Linked DNA regions of Homo sapiens. The protein of the gene in region 2 purifies or fractionates together with the protein of the main gene of each other region. This does not show direct contact. Each region holds a gene or a part of one and is shown on either strand. Other genes may lie near its edges.

Region 1 (4,122 bases), about 130 Mb from region 2:
TAAATATGTTTCATATTTTTATGCCTCAGTAGATTCATTTTTATAGCAATGAATCTGAGAGAAATGGCTATCTAGCCAGATATGATTACTTTTTGCTATATTTTTTGCTCCAAGTCTATAAAAGCAAACAACTGGAGGAATGAAAGCCATACCTGTTAAGAGTTTCTAAATGGAACCAACCAGCCACATAGTTTTCTAAGAAGTTTTCTTATATAAAGCTACTTATAAAATAAGCAGTTTGCCACAAAAAAAGTTTGGTGATGTTCATCAATCACAGTCTTTGAGAGCAGCAAAAAGCAGAATAGGAAAAAAACAGTTTAAAATATAAAAGATCTTTAATAGTAAGATCTACTATAACATGCCATAGTTTTGGAAGAAAAATAGAAATTATTATCATTAAATTGCTAAAAAGTCATCTAAGAAAATCAAAATTCCAAAATTCCAAAAGAATTATTCTTTCCAAAGGAAAAAATAAAGTTATCCTCTTTAATCCCTATATACAAAACAGACGCTGACAGTTTTTCAATTAAGTCTGACTACTGATATCCTACCAGAACCACTTCTTAAAGTGTTTAGTGATTAATATAACTTTCACATTCTGAAGAGTAAAACAATTATGTCGTATACAGACAAGTATCTTTTTCCTTCAAAATAAAGAGAAGCATTTATGAATTTGTAGGTTCATCCCACTAAATTGTAAAACATGTTGCTTAGTGTCAGAATATGTTACCAAAAGAAGACAACCCAAAATAGCATTTTAATGTTGACTAGTACACTGATTACCACAGAATTGCTAGTTTTAATACATCTTAAGTTGAAATATTACCAAAATAAAAATTTTAAAGGTCCAATTGGAATAGGACTTCTTTTAAAAAGTAGCTGAATTGATAAATTTTTAAAAATCCCACCTAAATCCTAATTTTTCTTCATCTTACATTACAATGCTACATTGTAACAGCATTACAAGCCGCTAATCACTCTGTACACTGAAAAATAATTATAAATTAATTTAAATAATGAGACAGCCATTACATAAGTGGAAACACAGACACACATATACCCCTCCACTAACAGTCAAGTTTGAAAAATGAATGGGTAATTTTTTAAATGACAAAATTGTGTTATTACTATTATTGTTATATTTGCAAAATATGTTTCCAAGGAAACATGAAAACCGTACCATGAAAAACAAATATTGAATTAGTAGCTTTCTATTTGTTCTTTTCCTTCTGAATTTTCAGTTCATAAGATTATGGGCATTAAGACAAAGGTAAATATTGTTGAATGTGCCCTTTTACTTATCACTAAAGCCACTGGCTTTACAGGTCCAAATCCTGCAATGTGTTTAGAAATCACTCACGTGTGACAAAGATCAATGAGATAATCACCAAACGAAGGAGATGTGTCTGATGAATTACTATAATCAAATAAGTATCTGATAATACAGCCACTATTAAATGAGATTTTTATACAGAAGAAAATCACGTAACTCCTATACTCTAGGATGGCCTTACATTTCTTAACACAGAAAACTGAATTATTTCCTATTTGGAATTAAACATCTTAAATGTTAATGCGTTCTTCTCTGTTATACCTATAAAAAATTAAAGATTATTTCCATACAGAGGCTGTACCTGCAAAAGTCATTGGAAGTAGTAGATAATTTACCCAATGCTTTTTAATTAGGAAAATTCTATTGATTACAAGCTTCAAGGCTCTAAGAGATCTACTTTTATGTTTTAAATTTAGCATGTTAGTCATGTTTTTTTCTTCTTTAAAATGTTGCCTAATTCAAGTTTGCAAAACGTTCACTGAAAGTCACCAGGAACTAATATTAGCAAACAGATGTACTTTTCTGGAGGCAAATATTAGTTATAATTTTCAAATGTGAACAGTCTAAAGAGAGTTCATGATAAAAATAACTCAATTGAAAGGAGATTTTGTTGTTTTTGTGGCAGGCAAAACAAAGATAATAAAGCCATTCCAAGCAAATTTTAGACAAAATGTCCCTCAGGATAATGATTAAGCCTATTTTCAAATAAGTCTGAATATTGGATCTGGTATATAAAGATAAATGGACAAATTTCTATGCAGAAAAATTTTTAGGATATAACATAATAATCCTCAGACATAATTTTTTAATACCAAGAATATCAAGCAAAGAGATTCATGAAGTCCAAAGCAGTGCCTACATATCTGTATATTTATAAACTCCACAGAGAAGTCTGATCTGTAATATCCATTAAGAACCACTGGCCTAGAAACTGCCAGATTTAAATTTAAAAAAATGTATTTTTGGAGACAGGGTCTAACTCTGCCACCTAGGCTGAAGTGCAGTGGTGCAATCACAGCTTACTGCAGCCTTGATCTCTAGGCTCAAGCAAACCCCTTGCCTCAGCCTCCCGAGCAGCTAGGACTACAGGCGCTTGCCAGCACACAAGGCTAATTTTTTAATGTCTTGTAGAGGTGGAGCCCACTATGCTGCCCAGGCTGGTCTTGAGCTCCTAGGCTCCAGTGATCCTCCTGCCTCAGCCTCCTAAAGTGCTGAGATTATAGGCATGAGCCACCATGCTTGGCCTAGATTTAAACTAAAGAAGGCAGGCTGTGGTCCACATTTTAAATCATATTAAAATGATGACTGATAACACTATATTGTTGCCTAAGGTCATCAAGAAAAATACCACATGACTCTGATAAATACAGGAAAACTCTATAGAACAATGCTCTGGATGGAGTCAAGTTTAAAACAAATAATATGTTGAGCATATACAATATACGAATTCAGCAAAAAGAATATTGAGAATGGATTTTGTTAAAGAGTGATGAAAATGTTTAAGATTGCTCACTTATTGGGGAGAAACAGTTTCAGCTGATGAGAGGAACAATGCGTAGGATAAGCCATGAGTATGGCTGATGATGCAAACAAACAAACAAAAAGGAAACAAACAAACATGTTTCATTTCTTATATCCCAGTCAAAAACTGTATCCTAAAGATAGGTTCAAGAACCTGTTTCCAGAAGACAGGTTTAAATATACATATTTGAAAAGACCAATCTTTACACACACATAACCCCAACAGACACCCATATTACATATATTATTTAATAATATAATATTTATATTTAATATAGTCCTAGGACTTGCATCTTTTCAGTGGAAAGGTGGTAAAGATAATGCTACTCATTTTATAAATATATAAAAGGAGCTAACTTCCTTAAGTTCAATTACAAGATTTCCTCAGTGGTCTCTTTAGTAGTAACAATATAAAATATACATAAAGGCAAAGGTCATATCTCTATCATCATTAAATAAAAATCTGGTATCCAAGTTAACAGTTTCCCCTGACCACTCCTTTTCACACAAAATATAAAATGTCTTAAGATTCAACCGTCAAATCTGAATTCTAATTCTGAGAGCCCACTTATTCTTTTCAGAAGCATAAACTTGATTTTCAATACAAGTACTCTGAAGGATAATTTTAATATGCCCTAAATAGAGAAAAAAAAGAAACCTCATTGGTGTTCCTTGCTAATGACAGAATGAACACTTGGTATTTTTTCTTCTACAAAAGGATGCACTGCACTGTGACCTAAACAAAGTTAACAGATTTTAATTTTGTTATTAACTTAATAACAGACGTGAGCTTCACAGGCTAAAAAGAAAGACTAAACCAACTTGCCAAACTTCATTTTTATATACTTTCCTGATTTTTATGCCCTGATCTATTTTTCTTTCTCTCTTACAATTTTATCTGAGTAATGCCAGAATACTGATTGCAAACAGTTGTAAAAAAATTTTATAAAGGTTCTTTATTCTCTAAGCGTGCACAGCTATTACATGTTTTAATACTTGATCTCATTTTCCAAAAGTAAAATAATTATCTTGGTATAAATCTCTTCCTATCACCAGGATGCTGAGATTTTTATTTTTGTCATCACCAGTATCAAGAAACAAAAGCATACAAAAAGTTTTGCAAAGATAACAGACTTTTTTTTTTTTTGAGATGGAGTCTTGCCCTGTTGCCCAGGCTGGAGTGCAGTGGTGCGATTTTGGCTCACTGCAACCTCTGCCTCCTGGGTTCAAGCGATTCTCCTGCCTCAGCCTCCTGAGTAGCTGGGACT
Region 2 (5,212 bases):
ATGCCAAGGATTTAGGGGCTTTATCTCTGGAGCTTTGGGGAGTTGAAGAAAATATTTGAAACGAGGGGATGTATGATAAGTTAGGTGTTTCAGAAAGGTCAGGTGTATAGCAGAGTGTGGAACAGCTGTGATAGCAAGGTGGGATGGGGAGCAGTAGCCATAGGTCAAGGGCATAAATTAGGAGACCATTGCAGCATTGCCCGGCAAAAGATGATGAAAGTTTGGAATAGGGAAGTGTTGGTGGATACAGGGAAAAGTGGACTGATTTGAGAGATATTTAAGAGGCAAAATCATCATACTTAATAACGGATGGGATGTGAAAGGTGAAGTAGCCAGGTGTTAGGTTATTGTTTGAATGGTTGTGCCAATATTAAGATATGGCCAGATTTATGGTGGAGGTGGTGGCTGTGAGTGGGTGGTGGAATTGGTTGGGTGAGTCTTAAGATTATGAGTTTGGTTTTGAAGATTGAAGGAGAAGGCTGGGCTAGAGATTTCAAGTTGTAAGTCATTTACATAGAGACCATAATTAAAGCCACACTTGTTGACTAGGTCTTCTAACTTTTATTTTGTCCTGTGACTTCTTGCTTGAATAACTATTAATATTCAAACTTTATCTTGAAGCCTAGAGGAGGAGTTTTTTAAACAAAATTTTAATTTAATTTTAGATTTGGGGGTACATATGCACGTAATTAACATGGATATATTGCATAATGGTGAGGTTTGGGCTTCTAGTGAACCTCTCACCCAAATAATATACCTTTGTACGTGATAGTGTAACATTGTACTTGATAGGTAATTTTTCAGCCCTTCTCTCCTCCTTCTGGAGCCCCCAGTGTCTGTTTATTTCCATCTTTATGTCTGTGGGTACTTATTGTACCCATTTATCTTTATGCCTCTGTGTACCCATTGTACCCACTTGTCTTACCAGTGAGAGCATGTGGTATTTGATTTTCTGTTTCTGAATTGTTTCACTTGATAAATAGCCTCCAGGCTCCATCCATGTTGCTGCAAAGGACAGGATTTCATTCTGTTTATAGCTGCATAATATTCCACAATGTATATTAATACATACTACATTTTCTTTACCCATTCAGTTGTTGATGGACACTTAGGTTGATTTCATGACTTTGCTATTGTGAACGGTGCTGTGATAAACATATGAGCACAGATTTTTTTCTTTTTTTTTAATGGCGTCTAGCTGGTGTAGAACACCTGGGCTCAAGTGATACTCCGCCTTGGCTTCCCAAAGTGCTGGGATTACAGGTGTGAGCCAGTGTGCCTGGCTCAGATGTCTTTTTGATGAAATGATTTAATTTCCTTTGGAGAGATACCCAGTAGTAGGATTGCTGGGTCAAATGGTAGTTCTGTTTTGAGTTCTTCAAGAAATCTCCATACTGCTTTCCATAGGAGTTGAACAATTTACATTCCCAACAACAGTGTATACGTGTTCCCTTTTCTTCTCATCCTTGCCAACATCTGTTTTTTGACTTTTTAATAATAGCCATTCTGACTGGTGTGAGATGGTATCTCATTGTGATTTTAATTTGCATTTCTCTGATGCTTAGTGATGTTGAGCATTTTTTCATGTTTTTTGGCCGCTCGTATGTCTTCTTTTGAGAAGTGTCTGTTCAGTCTTTTGCCCGCTTTTTAGTGGGGTTATTTGTTTTTTCTTCCTGTTGATTTGTTTGAGTTCCTTATAGATGCTGGATATTAGTCCTTTGTCAGATGCATAGTTTGCAGATATTTTCTCCCATCCTGTAGGTTGTCTGTTTACTCTGTTGGTAGTTTATTTTGCTGTGCAGGAGCTCTTCTAGTTTAATTAAGTTCCATTTGTCTGTTTTTATTTTTGTTGCATTTGCTTTTGAGGTCTTAATCATAAACTTTTTTCCTAAGTATTCTTTAGGATTATTATAATTTCGGGCCTTACATTTAAATCTTTAATCTATCTTGAGTTAATCTTTGCATATGGTGAGAGATAGGGACCCAGAGGAGGAATTTTTAAGCTAACCCTCTTTTACTACAGCCAATGTGAGAAAATTATTTTCCTGTTTAATAATGAACTATCTTTTTTTTCCCCCGCCGAGATGAAGTCTTGCTCTGTTGCCCAGGCTGGAGTGCAGTGTCACGATCTTGGTTCACTGCAACCTCTGCCTCCTGGGTTCAAGCAATTCTCCTGCCTCAGCCTCCCGAGTAGCTGGGATTACAGGTATCCACCACCACGCCTGGCTAATTTTTGTAGTTTTAGTAGAGATGGGGTTTCACCATGTTGGCCAGGCTGGTCTTGAACTCCTGACCTGTGATCTGCCTGCCTCAGCCTCCCAAAGTGTTGGGATTAGAGGCATGAGCCACCGCGCCCGGCCTCTAATCGTGAACTATCTATGGGTAATAGAAAATCTTACTTCTGAGAGCCCAGAGTATTTTTTCCTCCCCACAGTTTTTTCTTTCCCCTGAGAAAAATTAGATATTTTCTTATTTACCTGAGAGAATATATGATAATATATAGAATATATAGATGATTTTCTGTATTAAAGGTAGATTTACAATGATACAAGGAGTGTTCAGATAATTTTTCCTTTAGTTCACTGGCATATTGAAACTTACTGGCATAGGTTGGAAAGTGTTTAAGGAAAAAATGCTTAGTATGTTTCTTGCTAGAAATTTATGAACTATGAAATTCTTAGATGTGTTGTATAACATCTAATGCTGCGTATTTAGAGGATGAGATCAAATAATAGGAAACATTAATTTCATCCAGTTTACTCTCAAGTTAAATGACAAAATTGTGTTATTCAATTTACTCTCATATCTCACTAGATAATAAGGGAGTTATAGTGGTGTTATATAAGGCAGTGATTAAGTTTGTAGTCCTGTTACTAAGGCTGAGTTAAACTATGATACTGTTTAAATTTGAAGCAAAATATGACCAGTCTTATAACTAAGTCTTTTTAAGAGGGAAGTGAGTGATTCAGAGCCTTATGTTGTTTTTATGCTGGTCCTACAGACCATTCAGGCACTTCTTGTAATTCCTTAACCTGAATTTCTGAGTTGTGCTGGGGAAGATAATTCAGTTCTCTGGGTTGGCATCACTAGAAATTCTTGGTCTCCAACTTTTAATTGGGTCATCAACAGTGCTTGGAAATCTTTTTTTTTTTTCTTTTTAAGATGGAGTCTCTCGCTTTTGTCACCAGGCTGGAGTGGCAGTGGCCCGATCTTGGCTAACTGCAACCTCCGCCTCCCGGGTTCAAGTGATTCTCCTGCCTCAGCCTCCGCAGTAGCTGGGACTACAGATGCGCGCCACCATGCCCAGCTAATTTTTGTATTTTTAGTAGAGATGGGGTTTCACCATGTTGGCCAGGATGGTCTTGATCTCTTGACCTCAGGTTATCCACCCGCCTCGGCCTCCCAAAGTGCTGGCATTACAGATGTGATGAGCCACTGCGCCCGGCCCAACAGTGTTTGGAAATCTTTAGTTTCCTCTCTGTCAGCTTCTTTCCCCATCTTCCCTCTTAACTTCTGTCTCCCACCCAGAGTTCAACATCCCCCCATAAGCAGGTTACAGTTTCAAAGAAGAGAACACAGGCTGAACCTCTCCCGTTTCTGCTCCCCATCTCCAAATTTATCTACAGTGCACAATTTATTTTTTTAACCTATTCATATACGTTTTATTCTTTTTTTTTTTTTTTTTGAGACGGAGTCTCGCTCTGTCACCCAGGCTGGAGTGCAGTGGCGCAATCTCGGCTCACTGCAAACTCAGCCTCCCGAGTTCATGCCATTCTCCTGCCTCAGCCTCCCGAGTAGCTGCGACTACAGGCGCCCGCCACCACGCCCGGCTATTATTTTGTATTTTTAGTAGAGACGGGGTTTCACCGTGTTAGCCAGGATGGTCTCCATCTCCTGACCTCGTGATACACCCGCCTCGGCCTCCCAAAGTGCTGGGATTACAGGCTTGAGCCACCGTGCCTGGCCTTGTATACGTTTTATTCTTAATATTAATCCTGTTTTGTGTTCCTAGGGTAAAAACTATTTAGTCGTAGTGTGCTTTTCTCTTGAGGAACTGCTAGATTTTATTTGCAGATATTTGATAATGGTTTTAAATGTTTTTCTGTTTGTTTTTTGTTTTCTTGGCCAGTATTTATCAAACTTGACATCAATATTATGCCATTTTCATAAAAGGTACTTGGATGATTTTTGTTTTTCTGGAACAGTGTAAGTACAAAGGAATTTTTCTTTCTTGTATGTTTGAAAGATATCACCATTTAAACTATCTCTGTATTCCTTTCAGGGTTGTAGTCTATATATGTTCTCCTTTCTTGGGTTAATTTTGGTGGTTTTCCTAGGAAATCATTCTTTTCAGTAAGGGTTTCTAGTTAATTTTAATGGAGTGCTACACAGTATTCTTTATTTTTTCATTTGCCTCTGTGGTTATTTTCACTTCTCATTCCCAATTTTGTGTAATTATGCTTTATTTTTCTCCTGATTTGACTAGGTAGGGGTTTATTTAATTTATTTTTCATTCAAGGACACAGCTCTTGATTTAAGTTTCTGTTGCTGTTTATTTTTTAATTATTAAAAATTATTAATTTTAATAATAAGTTCAGTTTTCATCTTTTACTATTTCCTTAGGTTTACTTTGATGTGTGTGTGTGTGTGTGTGTGTGTGTGTGTGTGTGTATTTCCTTGTGTTGAGTGCTTAATTGACTTACTTAAAAACATTTTAATAGCTTTTTTGAGATATCATTCATATACTGTACAATTCACCTTTAATTTAAAGTGCACAATTCAGTCATTTTCTGTATATTCATAGATATGTGCCATCATGATCACGGTCAATTTTAGAACATTTTATCACTTCTAAAAGAAACCCCATACACTTTAGCTGATATCCCCCGTCTTCCATTCCCCATATGCAACTATTAATCTACCTTCTGTCTATAGATTTACCTATTTTGGGCATTTCATATAAATGGAATGATATGTGTTTTTGTGACTGGGCTTCTTTCACTTAGCTTAATGGTTTCAGGATTCACCTGTGATGTGGCATGTATCAGTACTTCATTACTTTATATGGCTGAATAATATTTTATTATATGGATATGTGATATTTTGTATATCCATTCATCAGTTGATGGACATGTTTTTTTTCCTCCTTTTTGGCTATTATGTATAATGCTACCGTAGACATTCTTATATAAGTGTATGTGTGGACATATGG
Region 3 (5,212 bases), on a different chromosome or scaffold from region 2:
ATTGTACACTTAAAAATAATTAAGAGTGTAATTGGATTGTTTGTAACACAAGGGATAAATGCTTGAGGTGATGGATACTCCATTTACCCTGAGATTATTATGCACTCCATGCCTCTATCAAAATACTTCATATACCCCAAAACTATATATAGCTACTGTGTATCCACAAAAACAGTTTTTTAAAAAGGAAACGAAAAAAAGAAGCTTTGAGATGATTAGCCCTCGCCATGTCTAATAACAACTATATGAAAGACCACAAGCAAAAATTGCCCAGTTGAGCCCTTCCCAAGTCGTTGACTCAATATCAAGAACAAAATAAGTAGTTACCTTAAGCTGCTAAGTTTTGGGGGGTAATTTGTTAAATAGCAACAGATAACATGGTCAACAATATATGCTAAGGAATTATCTTTTTCATTACTTAAAATTAAACTCAAAAGATAAGTACTTTTTTCAGTCATTTATGAAACAACAACCTCTCTCATTCCACATATAAGTTTTGAACATGCCAAAATTACCCAAATATCACCTCACATTAGCACTTACCTTGATGCCAAAAGTGAATACTGTCATTATGATTTTAAATATGAGTGCCAGGCATAACTGCCATATAGCTGAATATACTCCAATGCCTGCTGGACGATCAGGAATGTCATCGACAATTTTACTGGCATTCATGTCATTTCTGTAGTCACAAAGAGAAGAGGATTCCAGGGGACCACAGTCTGTAAAAAGCTCTTTGATCAGTTCACTGGTGTTTAGCCTAGTGTATGGATTAGGGAAGGCTATCACAGCAGTAATGGCTGCAACAATAATGACTTCCAGAACGGGATACTTTCCAAATTTCGTGGACTTGCGTCGACGACACCAGGCAATATTTGCCCTAATGAAAAAGGCTCCCCAAAGCCCTCCAAATACCCCTAGAAGAATAAAAGGAAACAGTTCAAAAAGGTACCATGGTGTATGATACTCCACATAAAAAAGGACCAGACGGCTGTTACCAAATGGATTGATGGACCTCAAAACAAATGCAGCCACTAAAGCAGCAAAAAATGATCTCCATAAAGTTTTGAGAGGAAAATAATAGCTAACCTAAAAAAAAGAAAAGGAAAAGAAAAATTAATGCTATAATTTTATAAGATGTTTCTGATATATTATAACTTGAATGGTAAATATCCTAGCTCTAAATTTTGCTGTAGTTAGAATTTACATGTAATGGATTTTACTGTAATAAGAAAAATTGATGTTATTATTATTTTTGGAGATGGTGATCATCATTACAAATTGACAGTATCAATTGATCATAAATGTCTAATAAATACTAATAGAATACCTAGTGCTGTTTTATATTCAAAATGAGTTTCACATTCAATTCAATCATGGTAGTTAAAAATAAATGTACCATCACCAACTCCTGTTAACTTATAATGCATTTAATTTGCCTCTTCTACATTAAAAAAAAAAAAAGAATACAAACAACTAAAAGAAAAAAGTACATTTAAAAACATCTTGAACTAAAAGAGTTAAATTCATAGAAGTAGAGAGTAGAATAGGGGTTACCAGAGGCTAGGGGTTGGGGAGGTGAACAGGGAAAGGGGAGACATTAGTCAACGGGTATGAACTTACAGAGGAGGAATAAGTTCTGGTGTTCTATTGCACAGTAAGATGACCACAGTTAATAATATGTATTATATATTTCAAAATAGCTAAAAGAGGATTTTAAATGTTCTCACCACCACAAGGACATAATAAATATTTGAGGGATTTGCTAATCACTCTGATTTGATTATTCCGCAATGTATACATGTATAGACACATCACATTATACCCCATAAACAAAAACAATTATTATTTGTCAAAAAAAATTAAAAAAAAATTCCTGGTTACATTTTTATGTAAAAAGAAAAGTCTTAAACACCTATTAAGAAAACAAAAACAAAATAATCCACTGAAGTCACTAAAATTATTTTCTTTAACATCACTAACTGTATCAGAAATAATCACATGGGAAAAACTTTAAAACACAACATAGGAATTGATTAAAATTTTTTAAACAAAAACTACTTGGGAGGCTGAGGCAGGAGAATCACTTGAACCCTGGAGGCGGAGGTTGCAGTGAGCCAAGATCGCGCCATTGCACTCCAGCCTGGGCAACAAGAGTGAAACTCCGTCTCAAAAACAAAAACAAAACAAAACAAAACAAAAAAACCCCACAAAAAAACAGCCTGGCCAACATGGTGAAATTCCATCTCTACTAAAAATACAGAATTTAGCCAATGGAAATAGATTGTTTCACATGTCCTCTATTAAGTCAAATTCACATCTTCTTACTTTTAAATATGTCAACAAAGTTAGATTTTAAATAATTACTAACATTCATACATTAATAAATTTTTAAAAAGTTTCCTCCAGGTATGGAGCATGAATAACATTTACTTTTTATTAAGAATGAGTGGAAAACAACTTTAGAAAAATAAATTTGAAAACAAAGTCTCTACCTATTACATCACCTACAAAACTGAAATGTGTGAAATATATTTGTAATGGTAATTATATATAATTTTAATTGTTGTATTCTTTTCACCTACCTCTTCCAGGCTAAAAAGAACTCCTCCAATTGGTGCACCAAAAGCTACAGAAACCCCTGCAGCTGAGGCAGCTGATAGCACCTAGAAAGAGGATATGGCTTATTTCATAATTTCATAGAAATTCAAACATACCAAATAAAAATTCTTCATGTTACTTGAATTTTCCAAATGGATTTTCTGAATTTAACTTGCATGTTTCCTTGCTCCCTAAGCAAAGGGTAACTATTCATTTCTTCTATTAAGATTTGTTTCTTTCTCCTGGCTTTAATTGAAAGGTCAGTCATGCATTTACCATTCAGTTAAAAAAAATTTTTGCCAGATATACTAATGTGAATAGGGTGTAAAGAGGAGGAGGCAATGAATATAGACAATTTTCAAGACGTATGTTTGTGTAGGTAAGAGGGGAGGGCAGTAACTGGGATGGGGAGCTATTTTTAAATAGGATATCATTTCTTCAAATTTTAGAGCTAACTGCTCCACCATAAATACTCTATTCCAAATCGTAGCAAGATATGCAGGGAACCGAAGACCTTGTAAGATTCCCTATATTTTCACTACCCTATGCATTCTGAAATACTGCTAAAATACTATCAATCTAGAGAGCCTCATTCTGAAAGCACACACAACAGCTCCTCAAGTTACAGTCTCACCAACCAACACCTCTACAAAAAAATTAAAGGAAAAGAAAAATCCAAGGACACTCTTCCGTGTCCTCTCTCCAGCTCCCCAGTCTATCAGTTGGTAATGGTCTACTTCCCACCTGTAAGCCAACTATACCTAACTATACCTATAATTTCACTAGGGTTTTATTTGTAATTATTTTTCTAAGAGTCTGTATTCCTTTATTTTTTTTGAGACAGAGTTTCTCTCTTGTTTCTCAGGCTGGAGTGCAATGGCGTCGTCTCAGCTCACTGCAACCTCCACCTCCTGGGTTCAAGTGATTCTCCTGCCTCAGCCTCCCGAGTAGCTGGGATTACAGGCGCCTGCCACCACGCCCGGCTAATTTTTGTATTTTTAGTAGAGACGGGGTTTCACCATGTTGGCAACACTGGTCTCGAATTCCTGACCTTAGGTGATCTGCCTGCCTCAACCTACCAAAATGCTGGGATTATAGGCGTGAGCCACCGCGCCCAGCCAAGTGTCTGTATTACTTTCACTACTTTAATACAGCAAATATCCAAAGCTACCTAAAGTATTTCTTCAAATGGTCAATTGTTACATTTCCAGAAGAGAAATTATAAATAATAAAAATTAAGCTGTAAATGGTTAAGATCATGAACTCCATAGTCAGGCTGCTGTGTTGAAATCATGGCTCTGCTACTTACTAGCTGTATGGCTATGGGTAGATAACCTAACCTATATGTGCCTCAGTTTTCTCTAAAATGGAAACGTGATAATATTACTTAGCTCTTAAGGACTGAGTAAATATATACAGAGTGCTTTAGAACAGTGCCTGGCACCAGTAAATACTTTATAAAAGTTTGGTGAATTAAAAGTAAATAAATATTTGTTTTAATCAAATTGTTGGCATTAAAATGTAGACTCTGCTTATTTGGGGAGGAAAGGGAGCAAATTTAGCTTCTTTTTTTTTTCCTCCACTAAGAGGAAAGCAAACATATTTATTTGAATGTCCTGATCCTGAATTTACAACCAAACTAACACCTAGGTATCTATAACTCATATACATGTTTTAATCCATTTCATACGTATCTAAGAAGCATTTAATTTAAAAATATCAACGCTCTCCCCTCTTGTCTACACAAAACTATGGGACCTTAATGCTTTCAACTAACCGTGAATTCTTGCCATTTATATATACACTAAGGTGACAGAATAACAACGTATTAAACATTAACTAATCACTACAGTATGAACATTAAAATTTAGGTAAACTTAATTTCTCAAACATCTAATAAATTACATTTTTTGAACTTAGAATAAGTAAAAGTCTTACCAAAAAATATAAAGGTACAACAGAAAGTAATGGAATTGAATTGAGGAGGCAAATGCTCTAGCTTCATCTTAGCCACTAACTTGCTACGCTACAGGATGGTTTTGAGTTTGTTTTGAACACACACAAATATATACCCACATAGTCGTAAGGGCAGTAATGTAAGTAGGTAAGACCACAGACTTTGAAGTCAAAGAAAAATGAATTTTAACCTACGTTCCACCACTTACTAGGTATGTAGTCTCGGGCAAGTTAGTTAGCTGTTTTCAGCCCTAGTTTACTAATCACTAAATGAGGATAACAGGGCCATATTACTAAATTACTGTGAAATTAAGTATTAAAATCCAAGTAAAGTATCTGCCACAGTACCAGATACACAGAAAGTAATCAATAATGCTAGCTATTTTTGTTATAAAGTACTGGAATCACAATTATTCAGAGATGAAACTACGACAATCTGAAGTATTCCACTTTTGGGATATCTACGTCCAATGCAAGGACAATATTTTAATGCGAACATTAAAATGTACTAGAATTATTTCAATTGAAGATTAAACAGTTTGATAAAATATTCTACTTTTTTGGTTACAGTACATTAAAAAACTCAACAAGATGAAAAGGTTCTGCCAGTATTTAATGAGATGTTTTTCAAAAAATCATATCTTAAAAACTCAAA

Evidence for each region.
Region 1: the proteins of ALMS1 (region 2) and NBEAL1 fractionate together in Homo sapiens (co-fractionation; one large-scale study listed by BioGRID). This does not show direct contact.
Region 3: the proteins of ALMS1 (region 2) and CLCN3 fractionate together in Homo sapiens (co-fractionation; one large-scale study listed by BioGRID). This does not show direct contact.

Annotation. Positions count from the first base shown.
Region 1 is NC_000002.12:203,220,363-203,224,484, reverse strand, and holds part of NBEAL1 (neurobeachin-like protein 1), read right to left. Parts: 3' UTR 1-4,122.
Region 2 is NC_000002.12:73,387,627-73,392,838, forward strand, and holds part of ALMS1 (centrosome-associated protein ALMS1), read left to right. Parts: intron 1-5,212. UniProt on the Homo sapiens protein: Involved in PCM1-dependent intracellular transport. Required, directly or indirectly, for the localization of NCAPD2 to the proximal ends of centrioles.
Region 3 is NC_000004.12:169,693,066-169,698,277, reverse strand, and holds part of CLCN3 (H(+)/Cl(-) exchange transporter 3), read right to left. Parts: intron 2,667-5,212; coding exon 2,586-2,666; intron 1,090-2,585; coding exon 544-1,089; intron 1-543.